Homo sapiens: one gene and its partners. The protein of the gene in region 3 binds, or shares a complex with, the protein of the main gene of each other region. Each region holds a gene or a part of one and is shown on either strand. Other genes may lie near its edges. The genes, in order: CBLL1, METTL14, RBM15 and WTAP.

Evidence for each region.
Region 1: RBM15 (region 3) and CBLL1 share a complex: the UniProt entries of both Homo sapiens proteins name them as parts of the WMM complex.
Region 2: RBM15 (region 3) and METTL14 share a complex: the UniProt entries of both Homo sapiens proteins name them as parts of the WMM complex.
Region 4: RBM15 (region 3) and WTAP share a complex: the UniProt entries of both Homo sapiens proteins name them as parts of the WMM complex.

The regions. Positions count from the first base shown.
Region 1 is NC_000007.14:107,750,633-107,754,200, reverse strand, and holds part of CBLL1 (E3 ubiquitin-protein ligase Hakai), read right to left. Parts: intron 1,657-3,568; exon of another isoform or gene 1,584-1,656; intron 791-1,583; coding exon 690-790; intron 307-689; coding exon 223-306; intron 1-222. UniProt on the Homo sapiens protein: E3 ubiquitin-protein ligase that mediates ubiquitination of several tyrosine-phosphorylated Src substrates, including CDH1, CTTN and DOK1. Targets CDH1 for endocytosis and degradation.
Region 2 is NC_000004.12:118,712,654-118,715,991, forward strand, and holds the end of METTL14 (N(6)-adenosine-methyltransferase non-catalytic subunit METTL14), read left to right. Parts: 3' UTR 1-2,777; downstream 2,778-3,338. UniProt on the Homo sapiens protein: The METTL3-METTL14 heterodimer forms a N6-methyltransferase complex that methylates adenosine residues at the N(6) position of some mRNAs and regulates the circadian clock, differentiation of embryonic stem cells and cortical neurogenesis.
Region 3 is NC_000001.11:110,344,709-110,347,177, reverse strand, and holds the end of RBM15 (RNA-binding protein 15), read right to left. Parts: intron 1,640-2,469; coding exon 1,569-1,639; 3' UTR 1,529-1,568; intron 871-1,528; coding exon of another isoform or gene 824-870; 3' UTR 501-823; downstream 1-500. UniProt on the Homo sapiens protein: RNA-binding protein that acts as a key regulator of N6-methyladenosine (m6A) methylation of RNAs, thereby regulating different processes, such as hematopoietic cell homeostasis, alternative splicing of mRNAs and X chromosome inactivation mediated by Xist RNA.
Region 4 is NC_000006.12:159,751,441-159,754,165, forward strand, and holds part of WTAP (pre-mRNA-splicing regulator WTAP), read left to right. Parts: intron 1-2,019; coding exon 2,020-2,174; intron 2,175-2,725. UniProt on the Homo sapiens protein: Associated component of the WMM complex, a complex that mediates N6-methyladenosine (m6A) methylation of RNAs, a modification that plays a role in the efficiency of mRNA splicing and RNA processing.

The DNA of each region.
Region 1 (3,568 bases), on a different chromosome or scaffold from region 3:
ATTATTCTAATTTTCAGTTTTATTTAATATTTTATAAGAATTCAACAATTTGTCAAGATAATCATATTAAATTCATAGTATTCCAATACTTCCCTTAGTTATTTCATACTTATTTAAAATTTTGCAAACTTAGTCATTAAACAATGATAAACCTATCTAAATTTCAGAACCCCACCTCTATGCAAATGCTTACTTACAAAAACAATATTTAATTATACTTACCATTCTCCCATAGATTTTAATAGGCAATCCACACTTGTCACAGAAATGAACTGGTGTATCATCCTTTTCACCTAAGATGTTTATCTGTTGAAATGATATAATTAAAATTACCTTCTTACACAATTCTAAAGATTGTATCTACACAATGAATTGGTCAATATTTTATAAAAGTTGTTAAAACAATTAGAAATAGAAGCCTCTTGGTATAATCTCCATTTATTCCCCACCATTAGTTGTGATACCATTAGTTTTTCTTCTTAGTGTTAACAGTTATTGATTTTACTGAAAATTACTTCAAATTATTCTTGAAAATAGAGTATTAACAAATGATTTGTATGTGCTGAAAATCATAGTTATAAGTTCATAATATTCTTAATGTACTGTGCATTACTCCAATAAAACATTTTAAGTATTTAATACTTAAAATATTTTATTGTTATAATACAATTTTTCATTTTTAATTATACCTGAAAGTCCCAAAAAAGGTGTCCAGGAAATCTTCGCTGATTTGCAAACAGCTCACCCCCTTTACAGTCATACCGTTCTTCTTCATTATAATCAAATCCTTCTGAGAAAAAAAAAGTATTGCCCATTAACTTTCCAAATCTCAAATTTCATTTTGGAAGCACATATACATGGCAAAATAGACCTTTTCACTAAAAAGCTCATCTGATGCCTTTCAAAGCTTTTCTAAGAATAAGACAATCAAGATTACTTTAAAACATCAGTTAGAAGTGATCTTGGTGATCTAGTCCAACTCTTTTACTTCATTATTGAGAATATTACTGTATGGAGACTCATAACTCAACATATAGAAGATAAGTGGCAAAGCCAGGAACAGACCTCAGATCTCTTGACTCCCATTCAAATGCTCTTATCAATTCATGAAACTATTTCTAATGTAAAACTTTACTGATGATCATGCTTGTTGCACAAATTTTTAAGATATTGATCACCATTTATTCTAGTCTAGCTACAAAAATGGTATGCTAAGAGACTGATTGTATTGCCAATAGCATAATGAAAACATAAAGCATTCTATCGATTTTATTAGCAAACAAGTTATCCTCTTCTTTAGCCCTAAAATGAGTGATTTAGACACTTTAACATATTCATATTTCATCCTGTCAATTAAAACCACTCCCTGATTAATTACCCAAACAACAGGAGCCATATCGTATTCTCATGTATCCTTTCCTACAATGCATTTATCAATATCAATAAACTTAAGATATATGAAGATGAAAGGGGCTCAATTTCTCTGGCCTAATTAAAAAGTTGATGGCAATCTTCTCAACTCCTACAAAAGAACAGAAAACCAATCAACAGTCTGATGGGAATTCTAGGTAGAATCCAATTACCTAAAGTAAAGCTGAGCAGACAAATATATCCCTCCAAGGAGCCAGGCTTCTCACGACTCTTTTGGCCCTAGAACTGGTAAACAGAGTAGCCAAGCACACAAGTTTTAACTTTACCCACATGACTAAATTACAGCACCTATACACAGACACAGACACACACACACACACACAGAGAGACACATTCACATTAACACACAAACAATGATGCAAGAAGTTTTTGAAGCTGATAGACACTTCAGTGTACTGCTATTTAATTACTGCCAATACGAATGTATAATCCAAAGTCAGGATGCTCTTATAAGTTACACCTGAGTGTTCCTAGGCTCCTATATCACCCATTTACACCTTAGAAAAGCTGGTGTGATCTAAAATTCAAAATAAGGAAACTCAATTAATTTTTCTTTTTTTTTTTTTTTTTTGAGACAGAGTCTCACTCTGTCGCCCAGGTTGGAGTGCAGTGGCGCAATCTCCGCTCACTGCAAGCTCCACCTCCCAGGTTCATGCCATTCTCCTGCCTCGGCCTCCCGAGTAGCTGGGACTACAGGCACCCGCCACCACACCCAGCTAATTTTTTGTATTTTTAGTAGAGACGAGGTTTCACTGTGTTAGCCAGGATGGTCTCAATCTCCTGACCTCATGACCCGCCCGTCTCAGCCTCCCAAAGTGCTGGGAAAACAGGCGTGAGCCACCACACCTGGCAGAAACTCAATTTTTCAAACCAGAAAATTATTGAGATAACAGCCAAGGAAATTAGGAGCACATTATCATTTTTCAGAGTAGTTCCACCTGTACTCCCATCATTAAACTATATATATTTTGATTGATGCCTAGGAAAACAACAATCAAAAACAAACTTATTTTACTCCAAAATCCGAGAGGGAAAGGAGAGAAAAGGATTTTGGCTTTTCTGCATTGTTTGAACTATTAAAGAATTATTTGTACACTAACGTGTTGTTTTAAAAAACTATTTTTTTAAACAAAGCCAAAGCAGGAGTGACCCTAAATTAGAGGTAGTGCAACAGCAGCCCTAGGTTATTACTAACACGATTTCTAACATTTTGACTTGAAATATACTTGTTTAGATGGCAGAGGAACCCTACGATAAAAGAAACCATAACATATGTTGTAACTAAAGCAGTTTGATTCTACAAAATAAATACAGACAAATTGCTGGAATAGAACAGAAAGTCCAGAAATACAAAAAAATACTTTTAATACAGGGGTCCCCAACTCCCAGGCCTTGGACCAGTACCCTTGGCCTGTTAGGAATGCGGCCACACAGCAGGAGGTGAGGGAAGGGCTAGGGAGCATTACCACTTGACCTCTGCCTCCGCCTCCCGTCAGATCAGCAGCCTCATTAGATTCTCATAGGAACGCAAACCCTATTGTGAACCGTGCAAGAGAGGGATCTAGGTTGGTGCTCCTTACAAGAATCTAACTAATGCAACAGTTGCATCCCGAAACCACTCCCCGCACCCTGCCATCACTCTCCACCTGTGGAAAAACTGTCTTCCACGAAACCAGTCCTGGTGCCAAAAAGATTAGGGACTGCTGCTTTAACATATATATGATAACAGTAAAATCCCTATTCAGCAAGGAAAAGAGTTGGGACAATGTTTCGAGGGAAAAAAAAAAAAGCCAGACCCCACCTTTTTTCCCCTTAATAACCATAAATGTTCTAAAGCAGTATCAGTGAACTTTTTCTGTGAAATGCTAAATAGTAAATATTTACGCTTTGTGGACCATATGGTCTCAATCACAATTACTCAACTCTACCATTATAGTGTGAAAGCCCCCATAGATAATACTTAAATGAATGAGCATAGCTGTGTTCCAATAAAATTGTTTATAAAAACAGGGCTACATTTGGCCCACAGACATAGTTTGCTAACCTGTAATCAAGGGTAAGATGGAAAAACTCTTTTATACTGGTGAAATAGGGGAAGGCCTTTCAAATAATGTCACAAAACCCAGAAGTCATAAAA
Region 2 (3,338 bases), on a different chromosome or scaffold from region 3:
TTTAGTTGCTTTATGCACTAATTCCTTACTGGGGATAGAAGCTAATTATTGTGAAATAACCTAGTTTAGAAGTTAGAAGATCAGCATGTCTGAGTTTTTACAGAATTATAATTCATGGTATTCCAAACCAACTGTTGTTATTTATTTCCAGTGAGAACCATTTTCCCACTGACCTTCCTCCTTTCAGAGGATGGGGATTAGGAGGCCCAAAGTACTGATTGAGTAGGAATACTTTTTTACTCTTCTTCACTGTGGAGAAAGAAGAGGGCAGGTAGTTGATGATGTCAGGAGAACAGATTTTATGGTGTGGAATACCATACCTAAACACAAATGAATCAGATTAGACCACAGAATTGTGATGATGGCAGTCAGAATGTAATACGGTCATCATGAAACAGCACAGTGTGAGAGGTCAAGGTGTCAACCTGGGAAGTGAGAATCAAGCAGGAGTGTGGCATGGCAACCAACTCACAGATCCAGAGTTGAGAGGGATCACTACTGCAGCAGTTCTGCTCTGTTACTCTGGTAAGTAGTAGAGCCACTTTATGAGCCCTTATTTCCTATCTCCCTTATTCTGAGGCCAGGTCAGTGATATGCTATAGTTTCATTTAAGTTAATGGAGTATAAAGATGGGATACTTGGGAGCTATATTGTGCATCAGGGTGTCACAGCTGCTACTAGGAGTTACTCCTTTTCATGTCTTTTAAAATACTTTCTACCCATCTTAATTGCTAAATTATCTTTCAGTTAGTTACAGCGCTTAATTTAAAACCTGTACTGTTTTCATCCTGAATTTAGAACATAAGATTTAGCCTTTGAAGTATAGTTTCAGACTTTACTAATTTGTTTAATATAATCCTTATTAACATGACAAAATGAAAGCCCTGTTGGGACTTAGTCTAAACAGTAGTCTTTGATCTGAAAGTGTCTCATATTTTGTGATCTATTAGAAACATAAACCTTTGCTTATGCAGAAGGTCTTTCTTAGAACAATCCTGTAATCTTAGGGTTCATGTGTGACTAGCATTATCCTCTCTTTGATGTTGGGTAATAGAGGCTGAACTTTTCTTGTGTATATATAGTTAGTTTTGAGGCCATAAATCTAGGACTTCTCAAAAGATTAGAACATTTATCCAGTAAACTGACTCCATTGAAGACTTCATTTCTGGAAATACCACATTGCTTCTGCTCTCAATAACTCTATCATTTACTCGTATAAATATTGCTAGCTGTAATGCACAGAGAAAAACTACCTCATTCAATCTAGATAATTGGGACATCCTTTTCCAGTAAACCCTTTTTCCACTACTGGATAAAATATTAAAATGATCAGTTTGAGTGTATGTTAGAGTTCATGTTTCTGTAACTAAAGGTGCTAATAAACTGAAATCAGATAAGGTAGGTTTTTCCAAAAATACTTCTAAATAATTGACAACCTAGAAGTCAACAATGTAAAATGCATATGGGACTCTATATTAATAGAGAAGCAGGCCAAGAACTTTTTAATGGGATAATTGTCTTCTTTAGGCACATTGTTTGCATATTAACGACATGGAAATATTTTCACTCATTTACTTTCATCCATCTATCTGTGCTTTTTCTCACTTTGATGAGTTCTCTCAACTCCTTTCTAAGAAAAGCAGAGCAGAGCAGCATAGAGTGCGTTAGTAAATGGCCACTGACTCTTGGTCTCAGGCCATAGCAACTATAGAGAGAAGAGTGGGGCTGGAGACCTCATACCCTGGGTAAAGTGGACATCACTTGTCAGCTCCAGCTAATTGTCACCACAGAGAGAAGAGGGTAAGTCTGAGATGTTCATGTGCATTTCCCTACATTTTAGAGGTTGACAAAATAGTTTGTGACTTTTGCTTACATTTGCATTCATAGAACTAAAAAAAATTTAACTTGGCTAACAAAATACCACATGCATATTTTCTTTTTTATTTTTATTTTTTGAGACAGAGTCTCTGTTACCCAGGCTGGGGGGCAGTGATAAGATCTTGGCTCACTGCAACCTCCGCCTCCAGGGTTGAAGCGATTCTTCTGCCTCAGCCTCCTGAGTAGCTGGAATTACAGGTGCCCACCACCACACCCAGCTAATTTTAGTATTCTTAGTAGAGACAGGATTTCACCATGTTGGCCAGGCTGGTCTCAAACTCCCGACCTCAACTGATCCACCCACCCTGGCCTCCCAAAGTGTCAGGATTACAGGCGTGAGCCTCTGCAACTGGCCAACATGCATATTTAAATTATGCATGCATTGTAGCTGTATACTGTGTGACCACATTTACTTAAAAAAGAGGAAAAAAGGTTACTTGCTTGAGACAGGAAACTATCACCTTTGAAAGCATATTAAGTAGTTGGCTTACTTTGGAACACACAGTAGACTGAAAATGTGAACTAATACTTTAAAATTGCCGTATAATGATGTCATTGCAAGCCATTCATCTATCCAATGGGGGAAAATGTGGAGGTCTAGGCTTGTGTTGTCACAAAATACACCTTTTAGATAATCCTTACCTGTACAGATTTTTATAACTGTTGTTATCATAAGAGAATGGCTACATCATTATCCTGCCTTTTCTGGGTGTTTATTTTGTTGTTTTTGAAAGTGGACAAAACCTCAAAGCACAATTTTGTTCTGATATATCCAGTTTAGTAGTTTATGCTGGTTAAATGATCAAAGTAATTGCTTAAATGTCTTGTGGAATTAGCTGTCACTTTATAGTTTATGTATTGTGGTGGGTACCTTAATAATAAAAAGATTTTTAATGTAATAATATTGCTCATAATTCATGAAAGCTACATGGGTAGTTGGGTTATTGTTTTGTCTAAGAAGCTAGGTTTATAGCATGGTAAATAAAAACTCAAGATTATAGCTTTCTTTTCTACTATTGAGCTCAATTAAAGGATAATGCATGATTAAAAATATATTTATAAAAATAATTCCAAAGCAAAATTTAGAAAAATGTAAACACAAATGTAAGCCCATCAGCCAACTACCTCCTTGAATCTTAACTCCATATCCTTCCTCAGATGGTGCTGACAAGATAGTGGATCAGGATGGCACCAGCACCTCTTTGGGGACCTTTCCCAGTTCTGATTGCTTTCCTTTACCCTGATTCAAACAGAAAGCTTGCCTTTTCATCTGATACCTGCATTTGTCTACTCACCTAGTCCTGAGCTTTTACACCACTGCTTGGGCTCTTATGACTTAGTTTTTGTTGTTAGCTTTATAAGGGCAGTGGTATGCTTTCTCAGCTTCTAATGTATGGCATATAATAAGTGCTCAATAAATAGTCCCTTTCCCTTGCTGCTTGCTTAATAATTGGAAATAA
Region 3 (2,469 bases):
TCATTAACATTTAAAAAGCAAACGGAGCATTTCTCCTTCTTTTGGCAATTTGGTGCAAATGTTAAGTGCAAGATAAAGCAATTTCAAACTTTTCTTCAAATTAAAAATGAAACTAAGGCCAAACGTGATGGGTGAACAAAATAAATCAAAACTTAAATTTCAGCAACTCCAGCTCTTCAAACCAGCAAAAGCCCCCGACTCAGGCACTGTGGTGAGGCTTAGGGTGCCTGCCCCGGCTTCTTGCGTGCCAGCAAACAGCACCATTTCCTCATCACGTTGAGAACCGAGAAGCAAATGATCCCCTTCACTGCAAACAAAGGGGGTCAACAGTAACACTAGTGATCCTTCAGAATTGACACACCGTGATAGTCAAAATGAAATTGATGGTCTCCCTGCTTCTTGCTCAAGACATACAAGATCTGAGCAGCAGCAAGCACCCCCTCGGCTGCAAACAAAGGGGTCAAAGGTTTGCCGTCAATTCACTTCCAGGCAGAAAAACATTTTCCTCAAAAGAAACAATTTATTTAGAATAAAACAAAAGCAGCTCAACTGTGAGCGCACGTTTGAGAGACAGCTACTCTTAAGCTGTGTGAGCCATAAAAAGGGTTTTTCTTTACTTTTCCAGAAATCTTGTGTACACAGCACAAATCAAAGAGGTCATTTTTTTTCCACTTAAAACACCGGCATTGGCATCACAATAGCAGATACACAACTTTAAGCTGCCATTTTAGTAAAATGCACAAATACTAAACAGATTAGCTTTCTTCCATCAGAGGCCCATGTAAACTCCACATAAGCCACAACTTCTCTTCAAAAAGGTCCATTAGAGCTTTGAATTCCATATCTTCATCCGCTGTTCAACCAGTTTTGCTTGCGGAGGGGGGGAAAAAAAGGTTATTCAGTACAAATGTTTACAATATTAAAAATATATATATTTCCCCTATGCCATTATAGATGAACATAACATTAACAAGACCTTCCTGGATGGTTCACCTCAACTTCAAAAAGCACCAATAATACCCACTGGCATAAACCTTGAAATGAATTTACTGTATGAATAGACATATAACAAGTAGAACAATAGGGTGGGTTTTTTTAAAGACTGCAATTGAAGATAACAGGACTGAAAATATCCTTTAACTCATGTAACTGAGTAAAACATGTTGAAAAAATTCAGAAAAAAGTTTCACAATCAATTTATAATCTATCAATATATTCTAAATATAACTTAAAAAGTGAAACTATAAAAAGGTAAAGTTTAGTCAAACTTTTGCCCCATCTATTTTCATTCTGTAATTTATATGGAGCAACATAGACTACTCCATTATTGTAGAAAGGGGTCGATACAAAGCCATTTAAAAATCCACCCTCATCTATGTTACCAAAGACAGCAGCCGTTATTTTAATAAAACACTCATACAAATAATTGTTAAACAGCCAAAGAACACTTCAGGAATCTCACTTTTCAACTCTGTTTAAACCATACATATAAAACTCTTCATTCAGCTTAACATTTCACTGTGGTTACCTGAAATCATTTCCTCCCTTTAGGGACACCACTATAACCACTATAACAGGGTCAGCGCCAAGTTTTCTCTCTTCTTGTTCTCATACCTAACTCCTATCTGAAAACCAAACCCTGTGAGAGAGACAGAAAAAAAAATGTCCAGAAATTCTCTCCAAAATTTTTTTCACATAAAAGGTCATTAAGGCCCTCTTCTCAAGAGGATTTCCTAATTCTGTTACCAGAGTTTTTGGTGATTGGTTCCTATATGGACCCAAACTATAGTTCAAGCTGTATATGCATAATGAACAATCTGCCTTAAAAAAGTGGATTTACATTTTTTATTTTTAAAAAAGCATTGTCAGTGAAAACCTGCTAATAGTTTTTAAATAAACCTAAACAATGTCTGACTCTGAAAGCAATAACCAAACACCTGACTCTTATTACTGGACCTAAAATGACCTGTAACTGAGTCAAGAAGGGCCAGAGTATATTTTACCTTCAAAAGGTGACAAATGCTTATAACCAGCCAGGCGATGGACATTTTAAGATGTAATCCTCAAAAGAAAAACTCTATCCACTCTCAGTTGAGAGTCAAAGTACACCAGAAATTTAAAACTTTGTGTGAAAAATTATTTATAGGAATCCCAACAAAATACTTAACCAAAAAGTTAAGCAGAACTATTGGCTAGGTATTGCTTGCTTAATTTTCCATAAAATTTGAAGCTGTGATCTAAAAGTCTTATCTTCACGTTTTTACCAATAATACTTAATAGTCATTAAATGATATCCTGAAGTTTTCTTTCCATTCATTTTAACTGAGTTCCAGAAAAATCAACTACATTAAAATAATTAAAGAAGAAAGATAGAAAAAAATTGGTTGTTACAAAGAACATTCAACGTTGGGATTATTAAATCCTGGCTAATGAGAAGTAGAACCGGTTTTAGACTTTTGCTTTCATTTG
Region 4 (2,725 bases), on a different chromosome or scaffold from region 3:
ATAGGCAGTAAAGTGGAAGGAATTCCATTGTTTTTGACAATCTTGCATATCTCTCATTTTCCCATTGTTTAATTTCTAAGTGGATGTTCAGTGGAGGCTAACGCCTGAGAGTGCTGATGGGAAATGGTGGAAATCTGGAGCTACAGTAGCAGTGAACAAGAACACCAGCTAATAAAGTTATCATATCAAAGAATAAAGCCTTTACCACATGCTCACTGGTGGCTTTCACCCTCGGGCTCCTCTGAGCAGTAGTAACCCAGGTTGAACTCTTCAGGTATTTTCTGGAAGAAAGCTTAATTACAAACTTTTCCTTGAATTACATTAGGTTAGAAAACATGCAGCCAGGCACGGTGGCTCATGCCTGTAATCCCAACACTTTGGAAGGCTGAGGTAGGCAGATCACTTGAGCTTAGGAGTTTGAGACCAGCCTGGGCAACAAGGCGAAACCCCATCTCTACTAAAAATCCAAAATTAGCTGGGGGTGCTCGTGCACACCTATAGTCCCCAGGTACTCCGGAGGCTGAGGTGGGAGGATCACCTGAGCCTGGGGACGTCAAGGCTCCAGTGAGCTGAGATCACGCCACTGCACTCCAGCCTGGCAACACAGTGAGACCCCCATCTCAAAAAAAAAAAAAAAATGCTGTAGGTGAAAGAACCATGCAACACTTCAAAGATTGATAAAATATTTACAAAATGCTCTCATTTTTAAACTTATAAGGCATACTGAAGTAGTGTATCAGGCAAGTGAAAGCCTCACTAGAAGAAGGAAAGACTAGAATTTAAAAAATGTTTTAACCCATAAGGTCATCCTGGACTTACCCCAAGGACAAGAATGTCACACTGTCTTTATCCAAGTCTCAAAGGTAAATATCACAATTATTTACTTAGATCCCTTTAAAAGTGATCATTTCTTTTTTTTTCTTTTTTCATAAATAATTACAAGAACAAGCAAATAATTTCTCCTTTTATTGCTGAGGCTAAAGAAAAGCAGTAAAATTTTATTGGGAAACATTTGAGCTTTTCATTACATATTTGCAATTGCTATGTATGTGCACATAGGTTCAGTAGTATGTTGCACTAGCATTTGGAAACTATAATCTGTGGAAAGTGTGACACTCCTAGATTGGCAGATATTTGCGTGTTTGAATTGTGATACGTGACCACTGGTCTTATTTTTGTGTCAAAAGGATGATCTTTTCCAATAAAGTCTTAAGTCTTTAAAAAAAAAACCTTAACTGCTGAATGTGCCTCAATTAATATAATAGATAATATTCTTGAGAGTTATGGAAGATGGATGTACCAGAAAACTTCCCTCTCTCCTCCTCTTTTTTGAGACAGGGTCCCTGTTTCCGAAGCTGGAATGCAGTGGCATGGTCACAGCGTCAACCACTTGGGCTTAAGCAGTCCTCTCACCTCAGCCTTTCCAGAGGCTGGCACTACAAGCATGTGTGCCTGGCTACTTTTTAAAAAATTTTTTGTAGAGTTGGAGTCTATGTTGCCCATGCTGGAGGACTTCCTGTTAAGGAAAATCCTTATTAAATGTTTTTCTAGCAAGAATAAATACTCTCATTCATTTTTATTTGTAGGTACTGATTTTCATAAATATTTGTGATTGATGTTGCATGTACCTTTTCAAGAACTTTTCTGATAAAGCGCTAGATTCCTTAGTGTAATAATACTGGTATAGCCAAGGTGTGTGTTAATTAACTGGCTCTGTTTCCATTTCAAATGATAATTTGAGATGAAAATAGATGGATTTCAGAATTGATTATTGATGTAATAGAAACAAGGTGTAGCTGTTTGGGCACTTTTTGTTTAGGGTTTATTTTTACTGCTGTGTTGGCAAAATACTGAAATGCAGAAGATGGATGTGTCCCAGAAAAGAAGATGGTAATTATGGGGAAGCATCTGCTGTGATATAGTTATGTTTGTATGTGTTACATCTATCACTGTAATAATTGTAAGCAAAGACAGAGAGTTTTGTCTTCATTTTGTGATGGATGGCTCTTTCCTTTGCAGCCAAACAGGGAAAAAGTTAATGGCGAAGTGTCGAATGCTTATCCAGGAGAATCAAGAGCTTGGAAGGCAGCTGTCCCAGGGACGTATTGCACAACTTGAAGCAGAGTTGGCTTTACAGAAGAAATACAGTGAGGAGCTTAAAAGCAGTCAGGATGGTAAGGGGTTTGTTTCTTTTTGGAACGTTGTCTCAACTTTGCATTGGCTTTTTAAAACTGCCAGTCATGAATATTATAGGTTAGATTCTGTACATTGTTAACCTCTGCCCTATGATTGTATATTATTGTGAGTGAAGCATTTTTAGTTGAGTCCGCAAACAAAGCCATATAATTTTAGTTTGTTTATCCCCACCCTCCTAATTCTTTATTGTTCAAAATTTCTTACATTTTTGTTTTTAGTTGGGGGTAGGATTTGGTAAAAGATAAAAGGGTGTTGTATTACTTAACAAGATGGACAAATTTGTATTCATTGTTTGAAAGGGAGAATAAGCATTTCTCGTTAAGTGTAAATCTTAGAAACATGGGCAGTTTTCAGCGATCTGAAAGTAATAAAGTTGATTGTATCTGTGAAGGTTTTATTAGTGAATAAGAGATTTAATCTTTAAATTTGCTGAGATAAAACTTGTCAGCCTCCATCCTTTTTAGTGCAAGTGTAGCTGTATCTCTGTTTCTCTTCTTTGTAAGGTGCATTATTAATAAGGAAAATATCC